2 separate regions of the Homo sapiens genome follow, and region 1 is linked to region 2. Evidence: fine-mapped expression QTL. A gene starts in region 2. The other region holds a variant in brackets. All regions are shown on one strand. Distances are between the middles of the regions.

Region 1 (2,901 bases), 86 kb after region 2:
CTCTTATAGATTCTCAACATGTACAGGCACAGTGCTAAGTGCTTTCCATCCTTTTTCTCATGTATTTCTCTAAATAACCCCAAGAAGCAGACGCTTTTATATCCCCATTTCTCAGATGGGCAGTTGAGGGTTTGAAAGGAGATGTAAACTGCCCAGAGTCATTCAGCTAGTGAGGGGACTCAAGCACTTGCTTCTAGAACCTCTAGTTCCACCCTCTCATCCACAGGGCGCTCAAGGGGTGGTCAGTGGCCGTTTGCATTGGTATTCCCTGGAGAGCTAAGTGAAAAGTTGGGTTCTTGGGTCTCCTCCTGATCTATGGAATCATAAGAGATTGGGGTGGGACCCAGGAACCAGCTCCCAGTGACAAGCAGGGCTGAGAATCACTGCCTGTGGAGCCCAGTGCCACCTTCCCTTTCTCTTCCACCAGGCGCCGAGGACCTGCCATCAGCCACATGCAGGGTTCTGAAAGGAAGGGCAGGTGTGACCAGGCCTCCCCATGCACTTCTTTCCTCCCTGGTGTAGTGGCCTCAGGAGTGCTGGTGGATGGGGAGCCATCATGCCTGCACATAAGTTGGGAGAGGGTGGCTTGTGTGGCCGTGCTGACCTGCCGACTTCTCACTCTTTCTGGTAACCCCCATGCCCTTCACCGGTGCCATGTTCCCCAAGGTCCTAGATGATGGAGGGACCAGGCCTGGTGTTGGCAGGCAGTGGCCAGGGCCAGGCAGCCCAAGCCCTGTGTGACGATGATGTGGGAGTGTCTGTCTGTGTTGCTGTAATGGAATACCAGGAACTGGATCATTTATAAAGAAAAGAGATTTATTTAGCTTATGGTTCTGCAGGCTGAGAAGTTCAAGGGCATGGCCCTGTCCTCTGGCGAGGGCTTTCCTTCTGCATCACAACATGGCAGGGAAGGTCAAAGGGAAAGTAGACACGTGTGAAGATGGGGAAACCCAAGGGGGCCCTGGTGTTTTAACAACCAACTCTCCAGGGAACTAATTCATTCCTGTGAGAACAAATCCAGTCTTATGAGAGTATGAATATTAGAGCTACAAGGCACTGCCAAGTTAATCTTGTCTAGAGGGCCAGATGAGCAAACAGAGGCTCAGAGAGGTAAAATCACTTGCCTGGGTTCGCACAGCAGGTAGGTAGTATGGTTGGAGCTAGAACCCAAATTAGTAGGATTGCTCCTAGACTCCTAAGAATGCCAAAATCCAAACCATAGCTTCTGAAAACAGATGTCCTTACATGCCCGGAGACCTTTGGCTGGTTTCCTGGTAGAAGAAGCTGTTCAGACCCCTCTCTCTTTCC[G/A]GTTCCCTGCTGCTTTGTGCTACTGGAGGGAAGCAACAAGCTGGTTTTTCTCCTCCCAGAATAGGAGGCATCCCTGAAAATGTTGGCCTGGATTTCCAGGCTGACTTTCTAAACACTACCTCATCCTAAGAGTAAATGGCGAACTATTTTCACACACTATTAAAATTTTAATTTGGAAGACTCCTGTCCTTGGAATGCAAAGTTCGCCAGGCATTTTACGTCCTGCAAGCTGAGGTAGTTACTAGAACCTTCTTGCGGGTCCTGCTTGTAAGTCCCACTTGTAGTATTACACCAAGGACTGGTGGGATTTGGACAGCAAAGTGACTCTTACTATTTGAGTTCGAAATGTCCTGCTTGTTTTAAAATGTTCACTCAGTTAAGGTTTCTTCTTCTTCCCTGTCCCTGCTCCCACTCCTTCAGAGCAGGATGTTTGGATGCTGTAGTGGGAGCTGGTGGTGAAAAATTAAAGTTATTAATGTGACCATCCATCAGATGGTCCTACATTTCACCTCGGTTCTGCTGGTCTCCAGCCCTGACCCTTACTCCATTTCTCTCTTCCTGCTTCCAGACCTCCAGTCCATCTTTGATCCTTCCCTTTCCTAGTTCTCAGTCCATCCCTGACCTCTACCCCATTCCTAACTCCCACCTTATCCTTACCCCATCTCTGAGCTTATCTTTTCCCATCCATCAGGTCAGGCTGGGGGTGACCCTCAGGGAGGGAGGGAGGGCATTTGTTTCTCACATTACTTGTTGTTGTTGTTGTTGTTGTTTTAGAGACAGGTTCTTGCTCTGTCGCCCAGGCTGGAATGCAGTGGCGTGATCATAACTCACTGCAGCCTCCAACTCCAGGGCTCAAGTGATCTTCCTGCCTCAGCCTCCTGAGTAGCTAGGACTATGTATGTGCCACCAAGCCTGGCTAATTTTTAAATTTGTTGTAGAGATGGGGTCTTCCTATGTTGACCAGGCTGGTCTTGGTCAACAAAGCAAAACCCTGTCTCTTGGCGGTACCTTGTAGCTCTAATATTCATACTCTTGTAAGACTGGATTTGTTCTGGCAGGAATGGATTAGTTCACTGGAGAGTTGGTTGTTAAAAACTGGCCTCAAGAGATCCTCCTATCATCCTCTAGCCTTGGCCTCCCCAAGTTCTGGGATTACAGGCGTGAGCCAACTGTACCCAGCTTACCTGGTATTTTTTTAAAAACTGAAAGTTTAGTGGTTTGTTTTTTAGGTGTTGTCAAAGGGCCCTCTGTCAAAACTAGCCGAGTCAAAGGGGCAGTATCAGAGTTATGCTGGAGTCAGTATCATCACAGGCCTTTAACCTGTCAATAATAGTAATAATAATAATAATGTATTTATTGAGCCTCTGCCACATATTAAACAGTGCTAGGCACATTTCCTAGTGTTAATTCATCAAATCTTCACAATAATCCTAAGAAATAGGTGCTTCAATTCTCATTTTATTGATGGGAAAACAGAAACAAATATTTTAAGGAGTTTGCCCAAGGGCATAAGTAAGACATTACAGAATTACTAAGCGACACAAGCTTATTTAGTTTGTGTCCTGAATAGGTGAAATGTTTGCTTCAAGGTCC
Region 2 (2,901 bases):
TCAATTTTGGAAAAGGAGATAACTTTTTCAAACTGTAATCTCTGCCAAGATGCTATGCAAAGGATTTACAAAGGAATCTATAGAACTCAATTCTGCTTCTTAAATACGCAGAGAGGAGTTAAAGATTTCAAATCTTTTAAAAACATAGTGATTCAGCCACGTTCTGTTTATCTGTAAATCTAATAGTGTATGTAGTTGAACTCTTAAAATTCTGGAATGTTTATTTTATTTTATTCATTGTCTTGAGAGGAGCAAAAGGAAGCGAGAGGGCATAGCTTTGAAGAACTGGCAATTTGGCAACTTCTCTCCCCTTGCCACCCCTCCCCCACTATCTTAGCTATTTGATCTGATTAAACAGCTTTGGAATGGTAGCCAGACTTCTGTATGCTAACGAGGCCCCTACCCTATTCGCGATTTAATGCGATTTCATCCCCCCAGAGCTTCCCGGTGCCCAGTGGAAGCCTGACTTCGCAGAAGTCTCCCAATTTTGTCAGGGGCTCGCCAGTGAAGAGTTCACACTGACTTGAAGCAGACACAGACTCATTGGACGCCTCGGGTCACATCGGATTATTCATTAGCAAATTCTTTCCACCTTCTATCTAAGTAGTGAAAGGTGACGCCAGAATCGCGTGTGCCACTCCTCTAAAGGGACCCTGATAACACCCAGTCCAGGCTCTACAACTTCTGCCTAGTCACTTGCTTCCTAGCAGTAGAAAGTTTCCAAAGGTTGCCTTAAGTCCTCCCTACCCCTAAGCCTAAAGATCAGAGCTCCAGGTCCCACCACCTAGCAGGAATCTGAGCATTTTGGAAGTTTCTGGTGTAGAGGGAAGAACCGAAGGGGTGGTAGCGGGGAACCGCGCAGAGTAACCCCCCTGCACTACGTAAGGAAAGCCCTGGCTGCAGGAGGGAGCGAGCCTGACATTGAGACGTTCCAGGGGGAGGGTGAGTTGCTGTCCTGGAGTCGCCAGGAACAGCAGCGACAGTTCCAAGAAGCGAGAGAGGAAGGTGGCCGAGATAAAGAGAACACTTCGGGAATAAGAATATTAAAAAGCGGCAGGACCCAGAGCATTAGCAAACGGCAGAGCACATGTAGTAATTTGTTAACACGAAACGGCAGCCTTCCAACTTTTGCACTGAAACACGGGGATTTACCCTTTGGGGGATTAAAAATGTTGATACGCAAAGCCAAAGGCTAATGAATAGGATTCAGTGGCTTGCTGGCAATATTTAAATATTTCTGTCCGGGAGCGCAAACTCTTCTGCAGTTATTTAGAAAAGTAGGGAGTTAAACCAAACTATAATACTCTCCCGTGCGTCTCCACTTTCCCCAGCCCGAAAAGGAGCTACCAGCGCTGTACTGCCCCTTTAAGACCTGCTGGCTCTCGGGCTCTACAAAAGGGAGTGACCTCTGGGCTTTGACAGCTCTCCTAATAACTACCACGGCGCAGGCCCCGCCCACCTAGCTACCAGCAGCGCCGATTGGCCGGCGGGCCGGTATCCCGCGCTGTGATTGGCCCGTCGCTTCCCCTGAGCGAACCTTTAGAACTCTGAGACAATATTCTGTTACATTGTAGCAAAATGGCGACTGTCATTCACAACCCCCTGAAAGCGTAAGTAAGACTAAAAAATGTACATATTCCGCGTGGTTTCAATATGAAAAAAAAGGCGCCTTCTGCGTGGCGAGCGCTGCCAGAGCATTGCGCTTGCAGGCGCCTCCAGCCGCGGCGGGGCTTCTCTCTTCTTTCAGCTCTTACTTCTTCATCTTCTTTTTTTCCCCCAACGCGCAGAAATGTCAGGAGATGCAATTAACAAGAAGAAAATTGTTACATTTGTGTTCTGCTAAATTGCAGAGAGAGCCAGATATAGGGGTTGCAGGCGGAGAAGCCCGGCGCTCGAGCGCTCTACAGCAGGAGGGTCGCGGGAGCTCGGGGACGGCGCGGTCCCCGGAGTCCCCCGCCTCGCGGGCAGGGAGCGCGGCTTCGGGGGCTGCTGGGCGGGGGGCGAGCGTCGGGCAGTGGCCGCCTCGGTGTACTTGGCCGAGCCCCGCGCCCCCGAGCCCGCGGCCCCCGCCCCGCCGCTGGGTCCGCTGGGTCCAGCGGACGGACCGCGGAGGCTCCGGAGTTTGCAGGGCGCTCTTCGCCTTCCGATCGCTCGCGGGGAGTTTGTGCAAACCTTCCGGAGTTGGAGCACCGCGGGGGAAGCAGCGGGTCCCGGGCGTGCTGGGGCCCAGGTGGTCGCCCCGGGCTTTCCCCGGCAGCCCCCGGATCTCGGAGGCGCTCCGGGCGATCGAGCGTGTGTCTGCTCGTGTATTTGCGAGCGAGCTGGCTTTAGTGGATTAACGACTCGGGTTAACTTGGGGTGGATTTGGAGGCAGGGAAGCCGCAGGTCTTATGAATGGTGTTCTCGCCACCTCTGGGTGAGGCGCTGAGGCAGGCGGAGAGGCGGTTTTGGGGCTCCTGGCCCGAGGGGGCAGCGTCTGCTCCCGGCCGGGCGAGGGGCAGGTGCCTCTGGCCGCCTCGGGGAGACTTTGAGCGCTTGCCCAGATCCTGGACAGAGTGGGGCGGGCCGGGCGAGGACTCGCGGGGGCCAGCCCCGGGTCCAACAGCCAATTTCTGCCTGCCTGCCTTCCTCCTCCTTTTCATCCTTCCTTCCTTCCTTCCTTCCTTCCTTCCTTCCTTCCTTCCTTCCTTCCTTCCTTCCTTCCTTCCTTCCTTCCTTCCTTCCAGTCAGTGGAACTGTTAAGCCGCCAAGTCCGCTCGCGATCGCGGAGCCAGGGGTGGCCTCGGAAAACTAGTGTCGCTCTGAAAGGGGTGCTATTGGGTGATGTCGGCAGAGGGTGGCTCCCTCCGTATCCGAGGTGGGCTGGGGGGTCCTCACCCCTTCGACCGGGACTTCCCCGCC

Direction of the effects. Positions count from the first base shown, and alleles are read on the strand shown. Sizes are in standard deviations (SD) of each study's normalised expression.
For the expression in aorta of the gene that starts at base 1,566 in region 2, allele A in region 1 goes with a higher level than allele G (moderate effect, 0.46 SD a copy in GTEx).

Evidence for each region.
Region 1: its variant is fine-mapped to the expression of DPF3 in aorta (GTEx, PIP 0.96).

Annotation. Positions count from the first base shown.
Region 1 is chr14:72,807,145-72,810,045 of GRCh38, reverse strand. All of the region lies in intron 1 of DPF3 (double PHD fingers 3), which reads left to right. Among named protein-coding and RNA genes, the nearest start is that of DPF3, 86 kb to the left of the region's middle. RefSeq lists an enhancer at 1-232. The variant G/A (reference allele first, on the strand shown) is at 1,309.
Region 2 is chr14:72,892,766-72,895,666 of GRCh38, reverse strand. DPF3 (double PHD fingers 3) reads left to right here and starts at 1,566. Exons shown (of 11, transcript NM_001280542.3): 1 at 1,566-1,610. The coding sequence starts at 1,579. RefSeq lists an enhancer at 1,312-1,606.